3 linked regions of the Homo sapiens genome follow. The protein of the gene in region 1 purifies or fractionates together with the protein of each later gene. This does not show direct contact. Each region holds a gene or a part of one and is shown on either strand. Other genes may lie near its edges.

Region 1 (7,782 bases):
GAGTTTGCTTAAGTCCTAAGGTACTAAACAAAAGCTGGAAATGACTTTGCAATCCAGGCCATTCTATTATAACCTAGAACCTGACTAAATCTGGAGTGTGACAAGATGGCAGGAAATGCAAATGGTGATGTTCTTGAGAGTCAGTAACACTAAAATTGGTTTGAAACGGTAGGTTCATTTCAGGTGATAGTGGGGAAATACGATCCACGAACAAAACGAAAGACAATTGGAGATCAAACATTTGCTCTGGTAACCCACACGGAGATAATCAAGAGTTGGATGTAGAGGGATATGAGCACCTGAAAATATTCTAATGCAAGAACACTTTATGCTTCAAAATCCTCTCAATGCTATTTGGCAACACAGATGATAGGACATATAAATTTATCATGCCTTAGAATTTTAAACATTAAGAAGAGCTTTTCTTTTAATGTTCTTTTTATGTTACAGAAATACGAAATACTGAAGTCTGATTAGGTCTCTTGTAAGGGGCTAGATATTTGCCTTACCTTTACTACCTTGTAGTCACACAAGTATTCCACCTCATAATTGTTTAGATTCCTTTTGGTGATTCCAATCGATTTACATGTGAGCTTTTCTTTTCTACATAATTCCTGAAGAGTATCAAGTGAAACTAGGCAAGGCACACACCAAGCTACAATAAGAAAATAGAATTCTTTACTAATGAAATAGCTATTCAATTAAAACAAAAAAGAGAAACTTAAAACCTCTATTCCCCATCTTTCAACTGGCAATTTTAGACTAAAAATTCCTATGACAAGAAACCAGTTACATGTCTTCAAGAAAAAGTTAAACATTAAGGAACTATTTTGTTAAATTGGTGTTCTTGGATTTTCTCATGGATTTCTATTCCACTACGTTTAACTGACATCAGTTAATTTCCATTAAGTCACTTGAAAATGTTTCATGTCTGTAAGCTTTTTTAAGATTATATACAGATGCAGGTCAACAGAGATAATGTTTTTCACTTTCATTGTATTCTACATAGACTACAATCACTATTTTAATAAAATGTAAATCTCTAGGACACTTATTCTTAAAAACATATCTAAAATATACTTTAAAACAATCTTATAATTTGTTAACACGTAACTTTCATTTTTTTTAACTGGACAAAACGAACTGAAATCTAATTAAAATATATTTCTACGGTTACAAACTCATTATATGTTAGTTTTCTCTTTGATATGTTGCATGAAGCTTTAATTCCACTTATTATTCTACCCATACTGCAATATATTATCACCAAGGTGAATAAACTCCAGTTATTAAAAAAATGGAGTATATCGATATTTTGTAATACTTATGGACTGTACTGTTTTTAAAGCCAAACTTTTAAAACGGTGTTCAATTTACATAAGCCATGTACTAAACTCAAAGAAAATTAGACATACTCATCATCAACCCTCCAGAAACCAGAAACTAATTGCGTTCCAGAAGATTTCACCCTCAAATTTCTGTAAGCAGCATGTTACCACACTGAATTTAAAGTGTAAATTAACACGTTTAGGAAAATGGAACAAACTTGTTGTTAGGGCTAGTGTCATGGTAAGCACTTGACAAAATCAAAAGTCCTCTGCACTACCCATCGCTCGGTCACCGAGCTATGTGACTTTAGTGAGGTCTCAATCTTTTTGGCTGTCAGATTCACTGGAAAAAAATGGAGAAAACTGGTGTTACCAAACAAAATCTATCAGTAAACTCAAGCTTTACTTGGTAGCTCTCCAAGGTAGTTGCGATCACCTTTTGCGTTTTGAGGTAATTTCAGGGAAGGGAGAACACTTGTTAGTGGCAATAACTTTTCCGGCCCCTTTCCTCATCCTCCCCACCTCACACAGAAACTTCATTGTCAGAAACCCTTAAGCATAATTTCTACCATCTCACTGGCTGCAAACGATTCCATCCTAAAGCAGTAAAGACAAAGGTATTTTCCTCCAGAAAACGTGGGGGAAGAGGCTGATTGGCTTTGTAGTGGTCGTTTGGGGGTAGGACAGTGATGGGAAAGAAATGACCCCCTAAGTCCCTTCCATCTACAAAAACTAGAGAACGTTTTGTGTTAAGCTGACCTCATTAAGGGAATCACGTATAAAGGAGGTTCCTCTTATCTACTCAAGGTGTGTTTGTGTGCTTTTCCTAAACATTTTTATCTAGTTGAGGATTCAAAACACAACCCGCAAAGGAAATGCTCTTTGAAAATTAAAAAAAAAAAAAAAGTGAACATGAAAAACTGCAAACACGTGGTTAAAAAAAGAAAGACAATCTCTCGACAGTCTCCAGTAATGCAGAAAAAGATTTCACTGACAAAATTAAATAGTTCATGACCACCACAAACACCTTCCGCTGGTTCACAGTAACCCCTGACATTCTCCAAGGAGAAAAATTCAGGGATAATGAGGTCATAATCCCAGCGGAGAGGAGACGAGCTTGAAAACACCTTTACATTCCGGAACGCACGGAAAAGTTCCAGGCTCTCAAAGCGTGCGCGACACCAACACCCCCCGACGCCCACACCCACGCGCGCTCGGTGCCCAGTTCCCCGGTGCCCAATTCCCCAGCGTCCACAGAAATAACACCAAGCTCCCGGTGGGTGAAAGAGTTACCGTAAGCCAGAGGCTGCAACCTCAAATACCCACTTTCTGGGCGATTCTCCAACGAGGCACTCAACCTCCTAGCGTGTCCGCCTTGGGGGGGATTCCTCGCTTATCCCCTTTCTTAGCACACAGGCGCCCCGATTTACTCTCCCCCTCTGATATTAAGGTCATGTTCACGCCGGCGGGCGTCGCTTCCCGCCTCCCACTTCAAAGGCCCGGGCGCATGCCGCACGCCGCGCTCGAACCACCACAAAGGAGCCAGTCGCAGCCGTGCCCCCCGGACCTCCAACCGGGGACTGCCGGGGAGCGGCCTCGAAGCCCGAGGCCGCCACGGGAGACGCGGAGGGGGCCGGGCCGAGCGGGCGGAGAGGCCACGCTCCACTTCCGAAGTGCCCCAGGCTCGGACAGTGCCCACCTCCGCGGCGGGAGCCGGCCGGGCAGGGAGGCGGGTCAGCGGCCTGGGGGAGGATAGGCGTCCGCAGCGTGCGTCCCGGAGTTGGGGTCGCGGCGGGCGGGGAACCGCCACGTCGCCATCTGGCTGGCCCGCGGGACGGCCCCGCCGCCCGGGCCTTGGGAGCTTGCCTGGGAACAGGGAAGGCGAGGGGGCCGCGCTCCAGCCTCACCTCCTCGCGCCTCGGCCCCGACCGCCGCCATCTTGTAGAGCTTTCATTCAAACTGGCGCGGTCTGACGGGATAGCTCAGCTGGCCCGACGCCCCGCCCCTGGCCGGCCCGCGCGGGACTTGGGGGCCGGGGCTTGTTGGGGGACGGAACCCGCACGGCGTCCTGACGTCACTGGCGGCCGACCCCCCGCCGCGGCGGCCAGCGCGCCTGCGCCCCAAAGCTAGGCCCGGCCCCAAGCGCGAGGAGCGGGGCGGGGCGAGCGCGCGTGCTCCCGGATCCTCGGCAGTGTCCGGCGCCCCCTTCCCTTCGCCAGGCCCGTTTGGCGCCTTCACTCGGGAAGACGTCGGCCAGGACTTTGCGCTTTGGAGACGTCTTACTTCGGCAGCACTCGCACACTGCGAGATCCGACACGGGCAGCGGGGACCTAGGGAGCCGGGGACGCTGCCTGTCGGGTACGGTTCCGCAGCTACCGCAGCCCCGTGGGCCATGGTTAGTCTCCCCCCGACACCGCTCCCTCTAGAGCTCCGGGCTTCGGAAGCGGCTGCACGTGGGCATGGCTGGAGAGGTTCCGCTGGCTTGGGGCAGTCGCCGGGATTCCGACTGGTTGGTGTGGGGTGTGGCCTGTGCTATCCAGCTCCCAGCTGATCCTAATGTGCGGCACAGCGGAAACCACCGGTCCACATCAGTGCTTCTCACTTAAAGGGGCTTACGAATCGTCGGGGGTGGGGGAGCTGGACTTGGAATTTTTTAAGAGATGAGGTCTCACTCTGTCACCCAGGCTGGAGTGCAGTGGCGCGATTACGGCTCACTGCAGACTAGACCTCCTGGGCTCAACTTTAATGTAAATTGGGATTGGGTAGGTCTGTAAGGGGACCCGAGCTCCCCTCCCATGTTGTTGCCAAGCTCCTGAGCTCGGCCTGGTGGCGGGTGGGGGCCGGGAGGAGAAGGACACGTTAGTAAGGAAGCTGCAGGACGACTCCAGGGGCCTCCCACCTGGTCTCCACCCCCCTCCCCCACCCATTCTTGACGCTGCATCCATGATTGTTCTAAACAACCTAAAGCAGAAATCTTAGAGCAAATAACGAAAACTGGCAGAAGGCCATTTGATATCTCCTTAAAAAATTCATGTAAAAAATTACATAAACGTTTCAAAGCAGTATGTATAAATTTGAAATACTGGAAATGAACGCAGACCATTAAAGGAATAGTTAATTATTTGATTCCATTATGAAATACTGTCTAGCCGTCTTAAAAAGGTGTTCATGAAGCTTTTAGTATTCAGCAAAACCAAAACAAATCCCCCTGAAATATAGTTTTAACTATGGAAGAAAAAAATGTATAGGAAAATAACGAAATAGCCTTTTCGGAGTGATTTTCTTTTTAACTTCTCGTTTTTAAATATTTAATCATTTTCTACGATGGGAAACACCACTTCCTCACACACACTCATGCTCCCAGACTTTATTTAGCTACAAACGGCATCATAATACAAATACTGTTCTGCAGTCCGTGTGTGTTTCAATGCAACTGCATTTCTCAGACATGTTTCTAAGATTTGAGTCCTTAGTAAATTTTGTATTCCATATCTCATTACCTTGAGATAAGGAATAAAAGGCCCTGTCCAACCCTGTCACCTGGAAGAGCATCCAGGCCCTTTAAGGCTTAGTCTATCTAGGATTATGCCTTCAGACTTGGATACAGCCTCCCGTCCTAACCGGCCCCTGTATTCATTACCTCTCCTGTATGTTTTCAGAGCCCACCAAGGAGCGGCCATCGCTACTCACTGGCCACTCTTGAATCCTTTTTGGCTCCTTTTCCTCAGTCCAACCTGGGTTCCTCAGAGAAGAGACTGTAGTCCTGGGACTGCATTTCTTTTCCGCCCTCTCCCTATGTGACTGCCCCAATTCCCATGGATTTAAATAGCATCTTGACACACAAGATGCCTCACTTATCGTCTCCGGCCCTGGCCTCTGCCTGAATTCCAGGCTAGAATATCCACAGTGCGTAATGGACATATGCCCTTAGGTGTTGCACAAACATCTCAAATTGAACATATCCGGAAAAATACACTTCTGAACTTCGTAGCATTCAGAATAAAACTCAAACCTCCAGATGGCCGGCAGGGCCTCCAGTGATGGGAATCCTGTCTCACCTCACTTGGTGCCACTCTCCCCTTTACTCATTTTCCTGGCCTTTCCCCGGCCCCACTTACCCAGAAATCTTTTACTGTGCATCTCCTATGTGCCAGGCACCTGATAGGTGCTGGGAATATAGCAGTGGATGAGAAAGAAAAAAGACCCAGTCCTCATGGAGCTGACTTCCTAGTGACAGGAGCAGCGGATAAAGCAAATCACTGAAGGCAGCTGGAAATTACTTTCCGGTTAAGAGGACAGGCTCCTTCCCCTCCTCACATGGCTACCTTCAGATCACTTGGGTCTCAGCTTAAACACCACCTATTGACAGAGGCCTCGCATGTTACCTCATTCTTTAGCCCTACTTTGCATCCTTAAAAAGCACTCATCAAAATTTGCAATTATCTTGTCGGGTTTTTGTTCTTTGGTCTTGATTCATAATGAATGCATCGCACTATTTTGTAAATCCAGTGTTTCGTTTCGTGTCTTGAATCCCATCCATTCCAGCGCATAGATGAGGCCCTGTCTGTTCAACATTCATCACCGTGTTTACTATCTAGAGCAGCAATTCTCAAAGTATGGTAATTGGGACCCGAAGACTCTTCACAGGGTTCATGAGCGCAAAACTATTTTCAGACCAACATGTTCTCTGCCTTCCTTCGCTCATGAGTACATAGTGGAATTTTCTAGAGGTTACACAATTTGAATATTGCAACACATTGAACGAAGACGCAGGTACCAGAACATAGCTATCTCCTATTAAGCCAGACATTAAAGAGATTTGAAAAAATACAAAATACTGCTTTTGGCTAGGCAAAGTGGCTCGCACGTATAATCTTGGCACTTTGGGAGGCTGAGGAATTGCTAGAGACCAGCCAGGGCAACCCTACTAAAAAATTAGCTGGGCGTGGTGGCACATGCCTGGGGTCCCAGCTACTCAGGAAGCTGAGGTGGGAGGATCGCTTGAGCCCAGGAGTTTGAGGGTGTAGTGAGCTATGATCAAACCACTACATTGCAGCCTGGGCAACAGAGCAAGACCCTGTCTCAAGACAAAAAACAAAAAATAAAACCCCAGATACCACCCTTGCCACTAATTTTTTGTCTTAGAAAAATTATTTCTCATAAAAAATTAACTTTATTACTTAGAAATAATTTTTAAAATTGGTTTTAATTTCCATATGGTAACTATAGTTATATAACTACATTTTATGTATATGTAACAAACAAAAGCTCTATGGGTTCTCAACATGTTATTTTTTAAGACTATAAAGGGTTCCTGGGACTAAAATGTTTGAGGGTGTTGGTAAATCCTGGCTATAAATGGAGAGAGAAATAAAAAGCCACTGAGAGACACACACCAGGGTCCTCAAGGGAAAAGTAGAGAATCATGACCCTTTCCCAGTATTTTTTTCACAAAGACCACATGATTTCTGGAGTGTCTCCTCTTCTACTGAAATAAACGTTCTCTTCTGAGAGGCAAAGAATCATAGAATGAACACTAGATTAAGAATGTGAATTTAAATGAAATAATCCATGTAATGTGCTTAAAATAGTAAGCAGTCAAGAAAAATTAAGTTTACAAAATAAGCATCTGAATGTTAGTTCAAAATCCACCATTTATTCACTGTGAGACCTTGGATACTTTATTTAACTGCTGTGAATCTATTATCTGGAAAACAGAAATAACCAAGGCCATATTACTCTCTACATAGTACAACTACTCGTGGAATTGTGATGAGATCAAAATTTTAAAATGAGATAATGAATTAAAGCAAATAACAGTATTATATGGTCACTCATTATCATTTTAGATATTGTGATTTTTCCCATAGAACTTTTATGCTAGGATACTTTTAAGAATTCTTATACATATAAAAGCTTTCAGTTTGTGATGAATATTTTGTGACCTCCTGTTAAGGACTGAACGTTTTCATCTCTGAAAAATTCCAGTGTTGAAATCCTCGCCCCCAAAGTGATTATATTGGGAGGTGGGGCCTTTGGGAGGTGATTAAATCATGAAGGTGGAGGCTGCATGCATGGGATTGACACCCTTACAAGAGGGACCCTTCAGAGCTCTCTCGCCCTCTATCCTCCGTGTGAGGTTATAAGGATAGCTGGCAACCCAAAAGGGAGCCCTCATCAGAACCCGGCCCCGCTTCCAGCCTGGTCCAGCACCCGAACTGACTTCCAGCCTCCAGAACTATGATACATTTCTGATGTTTACAAGCCACCCCCCAGACTATGGTACTTTATTATAGCAGTCCAAACTAAGACACGTTCCAAGACTTTCACATCATAGGTATTTCTTCCTATTTTTATATTTGGCTCTGTTCTTCAGACAATGTCAGATGTAAATAGGCAAAACTATAATTTGACATAAGCTTTTAGTGGTAAAAGTGTTTAAGTTTAAATATGT
Region 2 (7,982 bases), on another chromosome or scaffold:
TGTGTGTATGTGTGTGTTTTAAAGTGAACCACTGCCCAATATGAAAGTTTAATCTTCTCCTGAGACCAAGGCTTTTGAAATCACTAAACTCTTGGATCAATTCAGTGAAACTTGTGCTGTCAGTGACTGAACCCTGCCAACAATGGTTTCAGTGTTCAAAGCTCAAAGTAAACGGCTCCAAGAGTTTTCCCCACTAAGAGCATGGGCCCTTGTCTTTCCCTACTGTCTTACCTCCTCTACCACCCTCTTCCTCTTCCTAACACCTCAGCCAGTGGCTTGGATGAACAAGCTGATATTTATAACTTCGTTACTGGAAAAGAAAGGGTCTTCTAATTTCGGGAATTAGCACCTCTAAGGCAGAATGATCTGCTTGTACTGTATACTCTCCAATAAAAGACCTTCCCTCCTCGTCAATTTCCATCTCCAAAATGGCAACTTTGGTAACTTATGAACAGGCTTAGTCCTTTGTGGGAACAGCAATAAGTTTAGGCAGGGAACACCTTGGCTTATAGGTTTCAGACTTTCACAGCTTTTAAACAGTCTCTCACAGTCCTTATTTATGGTGCCAATGACATTTTTTTAAAGGTAAAATATTCTGGACATAGAAGCAAATCATTAGTTGTCTGTTCTTTTCCATTGCTTCACCATTTCCCCTATCAGGCCCCAAATGTTAATCAAAATGATGCTACCCATCTCCCTTTCTCCCCTCCCCATCCCTCCCTCCCCCAAATAATACACCAGTAATAGCCAAAAACTACACACATGCTACGCTGTAAAAATGCAGAGTTAACACTATTGGGAAGAAGGCTGTGGGTTGTGGAGATGCTCTTTGAAGATCTACAGTATTTTTTTGCTCTCCCACACACCCAATTCTGCAAGTTTTGTCCTTCATAGAAGGCCCTTTGCTTTTCGCAGCAAAGTGCAGAAAAGGTTGCCTTGAAACACTTATCCCCTTTCCCCTCCACTGGGATGGGTGTGCAAACTATACAGCTTGAAACGGCTTTAAAGCACTTGGGCTGCTGCAGGGCACAGAAACTATACTGGCTCTTCAAAGGACATCTTCTCAAGCCACCTCTATGGTGTCAAGACAAGTAGAACTCCTTCCCTTCCCACTTGAAACCCACAGTCAGATGTGACAGGGGCTGGTACTCAGGAGCGTTAGTTCTTGTCATCTTTTTTGTCATCATCCTCCGAGGGGTAGGAATGCCACGTCAGCCTTTCCTCATAGAAGGATATGACAACCTGTGGGCACTTGACATTGGCTTCCTTGGCAGGGACCAGGTCAGCCTCATCAGAGTTTTTCCTGCAGAATAAAGCAAAGAGAGACTTTGAGACCAGGTGCTGGTGGTCTATCCTAAGTTGGATAACCCAGGGGACAGTGCTTTAAAAATGGTAATTTTAGAAAAATAGGCTAGGGAACAATGAAAACGTGGCCCAAGCAGCATTTACTGGCAATTGTATGTCAAGTGACATCCTCAGAGTTAACTCTCCTGTTGAAAATTCCCTCTGGGGATTCGTGTATGTCAAAAGCCAGGTCAATGGACTTAACCAATCACATCTGAACATCTGGGCAAGGCCCCAAAAAGCATGACTCTCTAGATTCTCTGAGGGAAGAGAGGATACCTAGATTCTCTGAGGGAAGAGAAGTTACCACACTCCTCCAAAAGCCATATCCCAGCTGATAAGAACCCATGGAGAAATCTTGGCTTTGTAATAGGATTTTTTTTTTTTTTTTTTTGAGACAGAATCTCACTCTGTTGCCCAGCCTGGAGTGCAGTGGCATGATCTCGGATCACCACAACCTCCACCTCCTGGGTTCAAGCGATTTTCCTGCCTCAGCCTCCCCTAATAGCTGGAATTATAGGTGTGCGCCACCACACCCAGCTAATTTTTGTATTTTTAGTAGAGATGGGGTTTTGCCATCTCTACTAAAGATGTTGGCCAGGCTCATCTTGAACTCCTGACATCAGGTGATCCACCTGCCTCAGCCTCCCAAAGTGTTGGGATTACAGGCATGAGCCACCTCGCCCGGCCCGTAATAGGATTAAATACCACATCTGGCATTGGCCAGAGCAAATGAAGATGGACACTTTTTGCATAATCGTAATTACACTGACACTTCCAAATGCTATCCTCGCATAACTTCCAGGTGCTTTGAAATGATGTTTCAACATCGGGAGTAGAAAATGAGGGAGCTGTAGTTTTCTGAATTTTAAAATGTTTTCAAGTGGCTGGCCGCAGTGGCTCACACCTGTAATCCCAGCACTTTGGGAAGCCGAGGCAGGTGGATCACGAGGTCAGATCGAGACCATCCTGGCTAACACGGTGAAACCCTGTCTCTACTAAAAATACAAAAATTAGCCTGGTGTGGTGGCAGGCACCTGTAGTCCCAGCTACTTGGGAGGCTGAGGCAGGAGAATGGCGTGAAACTGGGAGGCAGAGCTTGCAGTGAGCCGAGATCATGCCACTGCACTCCAGCCTGGGCGACAGAGTGAGACTCTGTCTCAAAAAAAAAAAGTTTTCAAAATTTGAAAATCATACACATTATAAGGGAATTAGGAGTAAACTCTTAGGCAGGGAGCAGTAGCTCACGCCTATAATCCCAGCACTTTGGGAGGCCAAGGTGGGCAGGCCCAGGAGTTCAAGACCAGCCTGGTCAACATGGCAAAACCGTGTTGCTACTAAAAATACAAAAATTAGCCAGGCATGGTGGCGTGCGCCTGTAATCCCAACTATTCGGGAGGCTGAGGCACAAGAATCGCTTGAACCTGGGAGGTGGAGGTTGTAGTGAACAGAGATCGCCTCACTGCACTTCAGCCTGGGTGACAGAGCGAGACTCTGTCTCATTTAAAAAAAAAACAAACTCTTATCTTCAGGTTATTAGGAATGTCCTAGACAGAAGCAGTAGCGTAAAGCAAGCAGGAGACACCTGATGACATCTCTGACAAAGCACCACCCCAAATCTCTAGAACCTTAATAACAGGAAATCAGAGCCACATAGTCCCATAGAGCAGAAGAGTAAGCTGATAATGTATGTTTTTGAACAATGGACCCAAGAGAATGGGAGGGAAATGGGAATCTGAAGCATGCTGCCATTTGCTGACAGCTGAACAACACCCTCTGAGTTAAATTTAGTCATTTCACTCCCCAGAAATATTTACTACTTTTAGAAATATACAAAAATCTCTATTCTCCAGTAAAATAACTTTTTAAAATGTACTTTGTCTTATAATCAAATCCAGTTTTAACCTGTAGACAGCAGTGAGTCGGCCAGGTGCAGTGGCTCACGCCTGTAATCCTAGCACCTTGGGAGGCTGAGGTGGGTGGATCACCTGAGGTCAGGAGTTTGAGACCAGCCTGGCCAACATGGTGAAACCCCATCTCTATGAAAAATACAAAAATCAGCCAGGCGTGGTAGCACATGCCTGTAATCCCAGCTACTTGAGAGGCTGAGGCAGAAGAATCATTGAACCCGGAGGGGCGGAGGTTGCAGTGAGCTGAGATCGTGCCACTGCACTCCAGCCTGGGCGAAAGAGTGAGACTGTCTCAAAAAAAAAAAAAAAAAAAAAGACAGTAGTGAGTCAACCAAAGGAGTACAATCTTAAGCAATATGGAGATACTACTGTAACTCACACTGGTCACATGCAGAAAAAGTATATTCTAGCTAAACTGAGTAACTCACAGTATAACTTCTCCCACCCAATAAGCAGCATCTTAAAAATGAACTTTTCTCTTATAGGTTAACAATAAATCAGCTAAAAGAGGGGCAGCTCCAGTAACTGCCTAGGGAATACATAGAAGAGAATAGGTTAGTTAGTTGTGACTCTGGCTTTCAGTGGTGCTAAAGTTAGGCCCCTCCAGCCATACTGTAAAAGAGGATAATTAGTACAGACACGAGTTTCAGAGTAAGTTCTGGACTGACAAAAGGACAAAGCTCCATAGACTGTGTGTGTGTGTGTGTGTTTTAAAGGACAAAGTTTCTAGAATGCTGCCTTCATTGGCAATGGCTTAGAATTATTCCTTCCAAATTTTAAATACAATCATTGAGATCCACTTTGTGGGGAGAATGAGCAAGAAATAGGAAGAATGGCCTTCTTTTGACAGAGTAGGAAAATTACAGAGATTGTTGGGATAACTATCTTCATTAGGCTGTTTCATGGAGTATTACTATCACTGGTATTTATACTCATAATGGAAAAAAGCAGGCTTGCTCTATGCTTGATAGCAGTTAAGGAGCCTTGCTGACCCCTGCTGGCTGATCCTGTAATTGTAGAATCTGCACAAATTGAAAGGGATCCAACAATTAAGGACAAAAGGAAGAACTACAGATTCTTTCCTAACCCTGAGAATTTAGCAGAATTTCTGATTCTGGGGCCAGCCTCATCTTTATTAAGGAGGTGGTAGAAGGAGAGGGTGGTCCAATCACATTTCATTTTCTCCCCCTTTATTTACAGAAGTGAAATGTAATTCCTTCCCACACTCTTTCCACTCTAGATTGTCTCCCACCTCCTAAAAATATGGGCAAAGACCCAAGATTCCTAAGGGCTCCTACCTGTAACTCATGAGTCCAGGGTGGCAGTCAGGCCGAGGGTCACTATCGAAGGACTATGCCATCTTAACAATTTCACACTTGGGTGATTGGAATTTCGAAGGTCCAGCTCTTTTCCTCTGGCATGAAACCAATGGGAGAAGAAAAAAAACAACCACACAGAGCCACTGGCCGACTCACCATTTCATCAGGAACATGAGCTCTCCACTGGAGTCTGTAGCTCCAATAATCCGCTCCGGCTCCAAACCTCGAGCAAAGCCTCGTGGCTTTTCTGACTGTAAAAACAAGATGGGTAGAACAATTTTATCTATATGGGACTATTATCCAGACTGGAACCATTCCTGTGTCTCTGATTAATGTAATCACAAACTCTTTTTTTTTTTTTTTGAGACGGAATCTCACTCTGTCGCCCAGGCTGGAGTGCAGTGGTGCGATCTCGGCTCACTGCAGCCTCTGCCTCCCAGGTTCAAGTGATTCTCCTGCCTCAGCCTCCCAAGTAGCTGGGACCACAGGCACATGCCACCACGTCAGCTAATTTTTTGTATTTTTAGTAGAGACCCAGTTTCTCCGTGTTAGTCAGGATGGTCTTGATCTCCTGACCTTGTGATCCGCCCGCCTCGGCCTCCCAAGGGGCTGGGATTACAGGTGTGAGCCACCGTGCCCGGCCCAATCACAAACTCTTTTGCCAATATTTCACCAATACCTTGGCTCAAGTAAGAGAGCTGTTAGAATCCTTTGGAGTGATTATTCATCAATGTCTGAAGCGCATGAGATTTTCCCTATGTGAAAAGGGACATACAGCCCAAGCAAAATCAATGTTTACAACTATCTCTTCACTCTCAAAAAACAACTTACTTTAAGATACTGATTAAGTCAAAATAGCCACCTCACACCTTTAATGATTAAATATTGAAAACTATTTTTTACAAGAATGAATTCACTTGCCCTTATATCTGTCCCCAGCAAGTTTTCCATTTACTGCTCCTGTACCATGGATAAAAAGTAAGAGATCATGTGGCTTCATGACAGTACACTCTCACTTTGTAGGCATTAGCCTACCTAAGATTTCAGGACTAAGAAGAGACAGCTGCTAATATCAGGGAAGAAGCAGAACAAAACTACTTTGACAGTAGTTTGAATTGTGGGCTAGTAAAAATTCTTACTTCTATTCTTACCTCTTCTTTCTTCTTCTTTGGTTTGCTCTCCTCTCCCTTATCTTCAGAATCAGAATCAGCTTTGCGCTTGCCTCCCTCTGATTTATCTGTCTCATGTGCTGTTTTCTGTGACTGCAGAAACTCAGCAATGAGGTCGGGGCAATCCAGGTTCTCTTCTGGCTCCCATGTGTTGTCCTCACTGAAACCAGAGGGCACAGCAAGTCACACTTTCACTCAAATAAGTATACTCATACTAAGGATAATCGTAAGAGGACAAGACCTCAGATGTCTATGGAAAAGCTGAAATTCTTGGGGAATGGGGAAGCTTTTTAGTATAAATAGAAAGCTAAGAAACTGGCTTCCTTCAAAGGCAAATGACTTTTATTTGTCAATTTAAATTGGTCTGTAGCCACACACAAAACTGTTTCTCAGCAATCACTATGGGCTGGGTACAGTGGCTCATGCTTGTAGTCCCAACACTTTGGGAGGCCCAGGTGGGAGGACTGCTTGAGGCCAGGAGTTAAGAGACAAACCTGGGCAACTAAGCGAGACATGGTGGTGCATGCCTGTGGTACCAGCTACTTAGAAGGCTGAGGTGGGAGGATACCTTGAGCCTGGGAGGTTGAGGCTGCAGCGAGCTATGACTGCACCACTGTACTCCAGCCTGGGTGACAGAGCGAGACCTCGTCTCAAAAGAAATAATTTTTAAAAAGAAGTCATTCTGCTTTGTATTATAAGCAGTAGGCCATATTCCTAATTAAACAATAAGCCATGAAGGTGGGGACTGAGTCACACTGTATCCATCATAGCACTGGAGGTCTCATACATCTCTAGACTCCTGATAAACACGTGGTGGCTACATTTACCTGTGTCAGTGAAACTTACTCTGAGAATCCCTTCCACTTTAGGAGGTACTCCACTTTGCCCTTTACCACTCGACGGTCGAGAACTTTTTCCACCACATATTCCTCTTCCTCCTCTTCTAGCACCTCCTCCACTTTCTTCTTGTTTTGTTTTTTCCCCATAGTGCCCGCCAGCTTTCTGGTGTAAAGGGTGACGCTGCTAAAATGATAAATGAAATAAAAAGGGCATTAGGGAGCACTCTTATTGGTTAGATAATATCTGGATGGTAAGAAAACCAGGGACATGACAGGTGATAATATTGTATGCTGCTTATAGTAAGTGTTAGGCTTCTTCTCACACTCGATACAAAATAGTTTTCTGATATGTCCAGCCAGAAAGCTCATAAAACAGCCCCAATTAATCTTACAGCAAACTTTTTTTTTTTTTTTGAGAGACGGAGTCTTGCTCTGTTGCCCAGGCTGGAGTGCAAAGTGGCGCAATCTCGGCTTACTGCAACCTCCGCCTCCTGGGTTCAAGCGATTCTCCTGCCTCAGCTTCCCAAGCAGCTGGGACTACAGGCGTGTGCCACCAAGCCCAGCTAATTTTTGTTGTTTTTTTTTTTGTTTTTTTTGTTTTTTTTTTTTTAGTAGAGACGGGATTTCACTATGTGTTGGCCAGGTTGGTCTCGAACTCCTGACCTCAGGTGATCCACCTGCCTCGGCCTCCCAAAGTGTTGGAATTACAGGCATGAGCCACCACGCCTGGCCTTCACAGCAAACTTCTTTATTCTTGTGTATCCATTTAAAACTTTTATACCCATTCTTGGTAATTTTAAAAGGCTCCCAATACTCCTTTTACCATAAAGCATGGTAGCTAGGGCCAGGCGTGCAGGCTCACATCTGCAATCCCAGCATTTTGGAAGGCCCAAGTGGGAGAATTCCTGAAGCCCAGTAGTGTGTGACCAGCCTAGGCAACACAGCAAGACTCCATCTTCACAAAAAAACCGTTGTAAAAGAGCACGGTAGCTAAAATATTGCATTAAATTGAAAGGCTGGGTGCAGTGGCTCACACCTATAATTCTAGCACTTTGGGAGGCCGAGGCGGGCAGATCACCTGAGGTCAGGGGTTCAAGACCATCCTGGCCAACATGGCGAGACCCTGTCCCTACTAAAAATACAAAAATTAGCCAGTCGTGAGCCAAGATCGCACGACTGTACTCCAGCCTGGGCAACAGAGTGAGACACTGTCTCAAAAAAAAAAGAAAAGCAGTCCTCCTAAAAATGTGCACATATCAATAAAACTTACATATTACTCTCTGACTCATACTTTCTCCTATTCCAAGTTTTCCTTTTCATCAAAGTACTGGATTTGAATTTGTTTTTTTTTTTTGAGATGGAGTCTTGCTCTGCCCCCAGGCTGGAGTGCAGTGGTGCAAT
Region 3 (7,982 bases), on another chromosome or scaffold:
GCTAAGAATGCTATCAGGGGTCCCAGATGAACATTATGATGTAAGGGACATGTGGGGGTTGTTTTCAAGGTCGGCAGCTTCAGAACCTGGCCTAGGAACAAAACTCTGTGCACTGGCCAGTGGCTCCAAGCCAGATTATTCAGACTGCTCCTTTTTAAAAATGACAGAGGCCAGGTGTGGTGGCTCATGCCTGTAATCACAGCACTTTGAGAGGCCAAGATGGGCGGATAACGAGGTCAGGAGATTGAGACCATTCTGGCTAACACGGTGAAACCCCATCTCTACTAAAAATACAAAAAATTAGCCAGGCATGGTGGCATGTGCCTGTAGTCCCAGCTACTAGGGAGGGTGAAGCAGGAGAATCGCTTGAACCCAGGAGGCAGAGGTTGCAGTGAGATTGTGCCACTGCACTCCAGCCTGGGCAACAGAGTGAGACTATGTCTCAAAAAAAAAAGAAAAAAAAAAAATTCTAATTTTACTGGTCTGGGGTGCATCTTAGGCACTGGAGATTTTTTTTTTTTTTTAACGTACCCCCCAGGTGATTATAATGTGTAGCATTGAGAACTAATGCTCTAGAAAGGTATAAATCTAATTAGAATGAAGATACATAGGGATGATTGTGGCAGCTACTCTGGAAGGCTGGAAGATTCCGAAGTAGACTTACGCTTTTATGAAATGTAAAGTGTATGATACATCCTTCACCACAAAAGGCTTCATAACCTTGAAATAAATAAAAGGAATGGAAGCTGGGGGCGGGAGGAGGTGGTAGAGTGTGTGTATTTATGCGCCCACACACAGATGAAAAGAGAGAGAGGCAATAACAGTGCTTATGCTACTTACTTGAGAGCTAAAGATCAGAAGGATTAAAGCAACTAAATCAAACCAAAATTTCATAAATACACTTCCCAAACTGAAGAAGATTCAAAAGACAAAAATTAATTTTGTACGCCAAGTATGTAGAAATAATAGATCAAGAGAATATAAATGCCACTGAACTGTACATTTTAAAATTGTTAATTGAGCCAGGCATGGTGGCTCACACCTGTAATCCCAACACTTTGGGAGGCCAAGGCAGGTGGATCACCTGAGTTAGGGAGTTCAAGACCACCCTGACCAACATGGAGAAACACCCTCTCTACTAAAAATACAAAATTAGCTGGGCATGGTGGTGCATGTCTGTAATCCCAACTACTCTGGAAGGCTGAGGCAGAAGAATCACTTGAACCCAGGAGATGGAGGGTGCAGTGAGCCAAGATCATGCCATTGAACTCCAGCCTGGGCAACAAGAGTGAAACTCCGTCTCAAAAAAATAAATAAAAAATAAAAATAAAAATACAAAAATTATCTGGCTATGGTGGCACATGCCTGTAATCCCAACTACTCAGAAGGCTGAAACAGGAGAATCACTTGAACCCAGGAGGTGAGGGTGCAGTAAGCCGAGATCACGCCCATGCACTCCAGCCTGAGTGACAGAACAAGACTCTGTCTCAAAATAAATAAATAAATAAAATATTTAATTGTATATTATATGATTTTCACTGCAAAAAAAAGATTATCAAGGATTGAAAACAAATGCTATCACTGGAACAAAAGAAAGGGCCGGGGCCGGGCGCGGTGGCTCACGCCTGTAATCCCAGCACTTTGGGAGGCCGAGGCGGGTGGATCATGAGGTCAGGAGATCGAGACCATCCTGGCTAACAAGGTGAAACCCCGTCTCTACTAAAAATACAAAAAATTAGCCGGGCGCGGTGGCGGGCGCCTGTAGTCCCAGCTACTCGGGAGGCTGAGGCAGGAGAATGGCGTGAACCCGGGAGGCAGAGCTTGCAGTGAGCCGAGATTGCGCCACTGCAGTCCGCAGTCCGGCCTGTGCGACAGAGCGAGACTCCGTCTCAAAAAAAAAAAAAAAAAAAAAAAAAAAAAAAAAGAAAGGGCCGGGCGCGGTGGCTCACGCCTGTAATCCCAACACTTTGGGAGGCCAAGGTGGATGGATCACAAGGTAAGGGGTTTGAGACCAGCCCGGCCAACATGGTGAAACCCCGTCTCTACTAAAGATACAAAAAATTAGCTGGGCATGGTGGCGTGTGCCTGTAATCCCAGCTACTTGGGAGGCTGAGGCAGGAGAACTGCTTGAACACAGGAGGTGGAAGTTCCAGTGAGCCAAGATCGCACTATTGCACTCAAGCCTGGGTGACAGAGCGATATTCTGTCTCCAAAAAAAAAGAAAAAAGGAAGTGAAATGGTAAACATTTCAAAGCCCCGGCTGGGCATGGTGGCTCACGTCTATAATCTCAACACTTTGGGAGGCCAAGGCAGGCGGATCACGAGGTCAGGAGTTCAAGACCAGCCTGACCAACATGGCGAAACCCCGTCTCTATTAAAAATACAAAAATTATCAAGACCATCCTGGCTAACATGGTAAAACCCCGTCTCTACTAAAAATACAAAAAAATTAGCTGGGCGTGGTGGCAGGCGCCTGTAGTCCCAGCTACTCGGGAGGCTGAGGGAGGAGAATGGCGTGAACCCGGGAGGCAGAGCTTGCAGTGAGCCAAGATAGTGCCACTGCACTCCAGCCTGGGTGACAGCAAGACTCTGTCTCAAAAAAAAAAAAAAAAAAAAAAAAATCAGCCAGGTGTGGTGGCATGTGCCTATAATCCCAGCTACTACTGAGGCATGAGAATCGCTTAAAGCCGGGAGTTGGAGATTGCAGTGAGCTGAGATCCAGCCACTGCACTCCAGCCTGGGCAACAGAGCAAGACTCTGTCTCAAAACAAAACAAAACATTTCAAAGCCCCTTTCTATTCTTAAAAAATTCACCAATGATCCTCCTTCTCTAAGATAACTAAGTCTTCTACTTATGGAGAAGGCAGAGGAGTGGTTTAACATTTTACAAAGATTTAATTTTGCCCCCTTAATACAATCCAGTGGCCACAAATTACATTTCTCACTTAGCCAGGAGAGGGAGCTGTAATCAACATACCTCCCTGGAAGCTCTTTTGTTCAACAATTTACCTTATAGGTCCATCCTTACAATAGAAATAACCAAAATATGATACTTTTATTTATTATTATTATTTTGGTGGCAAAAGAATAGTTTTTGGGGAAAAGGGAAAGGAAGCTTACCTCTCTCTTTTTTTTAGATTTGATGTCATCGGCACTGTTTGAGAAATTGGATTTCCTCTTGTTACTTTCTGACTTCTCCCTGGGTTTATTATTTTCACCCTCCTTCATCTTCTTATACTTTTTCATAAATTCAGAAATTAGCTCAGGGCAATCCAAGTTTTTCTCAGGTTCCCAAGTATTGTGCTCCCTGGGTAAGAAAAATGGGAAAATTAAAAAAAAAAGGGGGGGGTAAAGAATGAGGAAAAAAATCCAATGCCTTATTTCAAAGAGGACATTCGGACAAAAAGGACAGAGAAACCCTATGCTTTAAAGAAGATAACAAATTTGATCCTAGATTTCTACCCAGGAAAAATGAAAAAAAAAAAAAAGCCCACACAAAGACTTATTTACAATTGTTTACAGCAGCATTTTAATAGCCAAAAACAGAAAACAAATTCAAATGTTCATCAATGGATGGTGACATGGAAAAACAAAATGTGGTATATCCATACAAAGGAATATTATCCAACAACAATAAGCAAAATATTAAAACATGCTACAACTTGGAAGAACCCCAAAAACATTATACTAAGTGAAAGAAATAAGACACAAGATACTACATACTAATTCCATTTACATGAAATGTCTGGGAAAGACAAATTTATAGAGACAGAAAGCAGATCAGCCGGGCACGGTGGCTCACACCTGTAATCCCAGCACTCTGGGAGGCCGAGGCAGGCAGATCACTTGAGGTCAGGAGTTTGAGACCAGCCTGGCCAACACAGTGAAACCGTGTCTCTACTAAAATTACAAAAATTAGCTTGGTGTGGTGGTACACATCTGTAGTCCCAGCTACTCGGGAGGCTGAGGCAGGAGAATTGCTTGAGCCCGGGAAGGGGAGGTTGCAGTGAGCTGAGATTGTGCCACTCCTGCCTGGGCGAAAAAGCCAGACTCTGTCTCAAAAAAAAAAAAAAAAAAAAAAGCAGATCAGTGAATGCCTGGGGCTGAGGGAGGGAGTTGTAATTAACTACAAATGGGAATCAAGAGAATTTTGGGGGACACAAAAATGTTCTGAAACTGGATCATAGTGGTGGTTGCATAGCTCTATAAATTTATTCCAAATCATTTAATTGGAGCCAGGCACAGTGGCTAACGCCTGTAATCCCAGCACTTTGAGAGGCACTCAGGAGTTCGAGACCAGCCTGGTCAATATTGCAAAACCCTGTCTCCACTAAAAATACAAAAATTAGCTGGGCTTGGTGGTGCACACCTGCAGTCCCAGCTACGCAGGAGGCTAGGGCATGAGAACTGCTTGAATCTGGGAGGCTGCGGTTGTAGTGAGCCAAGACTGCACCACTGCATTCCAGTCTGGGCAACAGACTGAGACTCTATCTCAAAAAAAAACAATAATAATAATTTAATTGGGCTGGGCGCAGTGACTCACGCCTGTAATCTCAGCACTTTGGGAGGCTAAGGTGAGCAGATCACTTGAGCCCAACAGTTCAAAGACCAGCCTAAGCAACATAGCAAGACTCCTGTCTCCACAGAAGATTTAAAAATTACTCAGGCATGGTGGCTTGCACCTGTAGTCCTAGCTACTTGGGAGGCTGAAATGAGAGGATCCCTTGAGCCCAGAAGGTTGAGGCTGCAGTGAACCGTGATTGCACCACTGCACTCCCACCTGGGTAACAGAGTGAGATACCATCTCAAAAAAAAAAAAAAAAAAAAAAATCACTGAATTGTACAATTTTTTTTTTTTTTGAGATGGAGTCTCACTCTGTCTTGCAGGCTGGAGTGCAGTGGTGTGATATCGGCTCGCTGCAACCTGTCTCCTGGGTTCAAGCCATTCTTCGGCCTCAGCCTCCCCGGTAACTAGGATTACAGGCATGCGCCACCAATTTTTGTATTTTTAGTAGAGACGGGGTTTCACCATGTTGGCCAGGCTGGTCTCGAACTCCTGACCTCAAGTGATCCGCCTGCTTCGGCCACTCAAAGTGCTGGAATTATGGATGTGAGCCACCGCATCTAGCCTGAATTGTACAATTTCAATGGGTGAATGTTATGGTGTTTAAATAATACCTCGATAAAGCTATTTAAAAACCCAAAATTCAGCCAGGCACGGTGGCTCATGCGTGTAATCCCAGTACTTTGGGAGGCTGAAGCAGTCGGGCATGGTGGCACCTGCCTGTAATCCTAGCTACTCAGGAGGCTGAGGAGGGAGGATCACTTGAACCCGGGAGGCAGGAGGTTGTGGTGAGCTGAGTTCGAGCTATTGCACTCCAGCCTGGGCAACAAGAGTGAAACTCCATCTCAAAAAAAAAAAAAAAAAAAAAAGGTTTATTTAGATGGGAATGATTTGAACACATGCCATAATAACCTGACTCAAGTAGAAAGCAGAAAGACGGAAAAATCTGAGCTATTTACTCTTGACCTAAACAACTTTCTACAAAAGGAACATAATATTGAGACAAAATTTATTTCTAAATCATTTGAGCTAATATGGGAAAGTTTCTCCTTTATATCCCTTCTCTCAGCAGAAAAAAAATTCCTCGGCCGGGCACGGTGGCTCAAGTCTCTAATCCCAGCACTTTGGGAAGCAGAAGCAGGTGGATCACCTGAGGTCAGGAGGTCGAGACCATCCTGGCCAACACAGTGAAACCCCATCTCTAATAAAAATACAAAATTTAGAAGGGCGTGGTGGCGGGCGCCTGTAATCCCATCTACTCAGGAGGCTGAGGCAGGAGAATCGTTTGAACCCGGGAGAAGGAGGTTGCAGTGAGCCAAGATCACGCCATTGCACACCAGCCTGGGCAATAAGAGCAAAACTCTTGTCTCAAAAAAAGAAAAGAAGTCAAGAAAAAAAATTCCTCACACAGTAACTTTCCCCAAAACCCACAGACCATATAGTTTACCATCCCAGAGGAAATTAACATACCAATATCAAAAGGTGTACCAAGACTATTACACAAGCCGAATACACTTGGGGGTTGGGAAGAATCTGTTGATAGCTAGAAAAGCCAGTCCTATAATGCGATTATCCCTTTTCCTAACACTTTGGTACTGCTGCTTCTACTTCAGTTTCCACCCAAAAGACAACATAGTATGATTTAAAAAGAGCCTGGGTTGGCCAGGAATAGTGATTCACACCTATAATCCCAGCACTTCAAGAGGCCAAGGCAGGCAGATCGCTTGAACCCAAGAGAGCGAGACCAGCCTGGGTAACACAGTGAGACCCTGTCTCTATTTTGAAGATAAAAAAGCAGGGCGTGGTGGCTCACGCCTGTAATCCCAACACTTTGGGAGGCTGAGGTGGGCGAATCACAAGGTCAGGAGTTCGAGACCAGCCTGGCCAACATGGTGAAATGCTGTCTCTACTAAAAATACAAAAAGTTAGCTGGGCGTGGTGGCAGGCACCTGTAATCCCAGCTACTCGGGAGGCTGAGGCAGGAGAATCGCTTGAACCCGGGAGGCGGAGGTTGCAGTGAGCTGAGATCGCGCCACTGAGCTCCAGCGTGGGCGATAGTGAGAGACTCTGTCTCAAAAAAAAAAAAAAAAAAAGATAAAAATATGTAAAAATTTAAATTAAAAAAAGAATTAAAGTTTTGAAAGAGGCAAGGGTCTTGCTATGTTAACCAGACAGGAGTGCAGTGGCTATTCACAGGTACGATCCTACTAATGCTCAAAATGGGAGTTCTGACCTGCTCTGGTTCACTCCTACTTAGGCAACCTGGTGGTCCCTCACTCCTGGGAGGTCACTATATTGATGCCAAACTTAATGCAGACACCTGATCGGTTTAGTGCACTACAGCCCAAAACTCCTGGACTCAAGCAATCCTCCCACTTCAACCTCCCTAGTAGCTGGGACCACGGGTACATACCACCATGCCTGGACTCTAAATGCTTTTGTGAGAATCGAAGAGAGCACAAGAGGTAGAATTTGATCACTGTCTAGCACAAAGTAGGCATTTAGTTATAGACAATGCTGATTTGTTCCAGTCTTTTATGAAATCCAGGGCATTTCTGAAAAAGGACCAATGTTTACTTTGTCTACCCCAAACCTTACCTTTTCCCCTTTCATCTATGGTAAGGTACCAGTAGCTCAATGACAGAGAAAGAGTTTCAAGTATCTTTCAAACACCCAAATATTTCCAGTGGAAATGGGCCCAATAAACATCTTCAAAATCTTCTGGTGTTACTTTAGTTCCTATCTGTTAGTGCTCTAGAGGTCTCTCAAACTTTAACAGTTCTCATCTCTAGTGGAAGCTGTGATACCACTCCTCTCTACAAACAGAGGGCATCTTCTGATTGTTGTGCTACCCATACTTGCACTCTGGGTGCTAGAGATGCTAAGCATCCTGCAATGCATGAATGATCCCACCTACAACGCCAATAATTCTCCAGATGAGAAACCTTGAGTCATGTAATGAAATAACCTCCAGTATGTTTCAAAGGTTCTTGACACATAGCCTTTATCCAAAAGTATTGGTAAACCACTGTATCTTTTAGTGTATTTAGGTCCTAGACTGCAGGAGCTGTGCCATCCAATATGGTAACCACTAGCCACATGTGCCTATTTGAAATGCAGCTAGTTTGAATGGAGATGCACTATAAAGTATAAAATACATCCCAGATTTTCAAGTCTTAGCACACACACACACACAAATTTCATTAATAACTTTTGTACTGATTAACGCTGAAATAGTATTTTTCACGTATTAGGTTAAATAAAATATTATTAAAATTAATTTCACAGCCAGGCACGGTGGCTCACGGCTGTAATCCCAGCACTTTGGGAGGCCAAGGCAGGTGGCTCACTTGAGCCTGGAAGTTCGAGACCAGCCTGAGTAACATGACAAAACCCTGCCTCTACTAAAAACACAGTC

Evidence for each region. The genes of interacting proteins can lie anywhere in the genome.
Region 2: the proteins of SUV39H2 (region 1) and CBX1 purify together in Homo sapiens (affinity purification with mass spectrometry; 4 studies listed by BioGRID and IntAct, with this or other methods). This does not show direct contact.
Region 3: the proteins of SUV39H2 (region 1) and CBX5 purify together in Homo sapiens (affinity purification with mass spectrometry; 4 studies listed by BioGRID and IntAct, with this or other methods). This does not show direct contact.

Annotation. Positions count from the first base shown.
Region 1 is NC_000010.11:14,874,373-14,882,154, reverse strand, and holds the start of SUV39H2 (histone-lysine N-methyltransferase SUV39H2), read right to left. Parts: upstream 3,290-7,782; 5' UTR 3,267-3,289; coding exon 3,236-3,266; exon of another isoform or gene 2,622-3,235; intron 656-2,621; coding exon 510-655; intron 1-509. UniProt on the Homo sapiens protein: Histone methyltransferase that specifically trimethylates 'Lys-9' of histone H3 using monomethylated H3 'Lys-9' as substrate.
Region 2 is NC_000017.11:48,070,277-48,078,258, forward strand, and holds part of CBX1 (chromobox protein homolog 1), read right to left. Parts: intron 6,766-7,982; 5' UTR 6,729-6,765; coding exon 6,589-6,728; intron 5,903-6,588; coding exon 5,725-5,902; intron 4,825-5,724; coding exon 4,730-4,824; intron 1,304-4,729; coding exon 1,159-1,303; 3' UTR 1-1,158. UniProt on the Homo sapiens protein: Component of heterochromatin. Recognizes and binds histone H3 tails methylated at 'Lys-9', leading to epigenetic repression. Interaction with lamin B receptor (LBR) can contribute to the association of the heterochromatin with the inner nuclear membrane.
Region 3 is NC_000012.12:54,248,921-54,256,902, forward strand, and holds part of CBX5 (chromobox protein homolog 5), read right to left. Parts: intron 3,308-7,982; coding exon 3,121-3,307; intron 1-3,120. UniProt on the Homo sapiens protein: Component of heterochromatin that recognizes and binds histone H3 tails methylated at 'Lys-9' (H3K9me), leading to epigenetic repression. In contrast, it is excluded from chromatin when 'Tyr-41' of histone H3 is phosphorylated (H3Y41ph).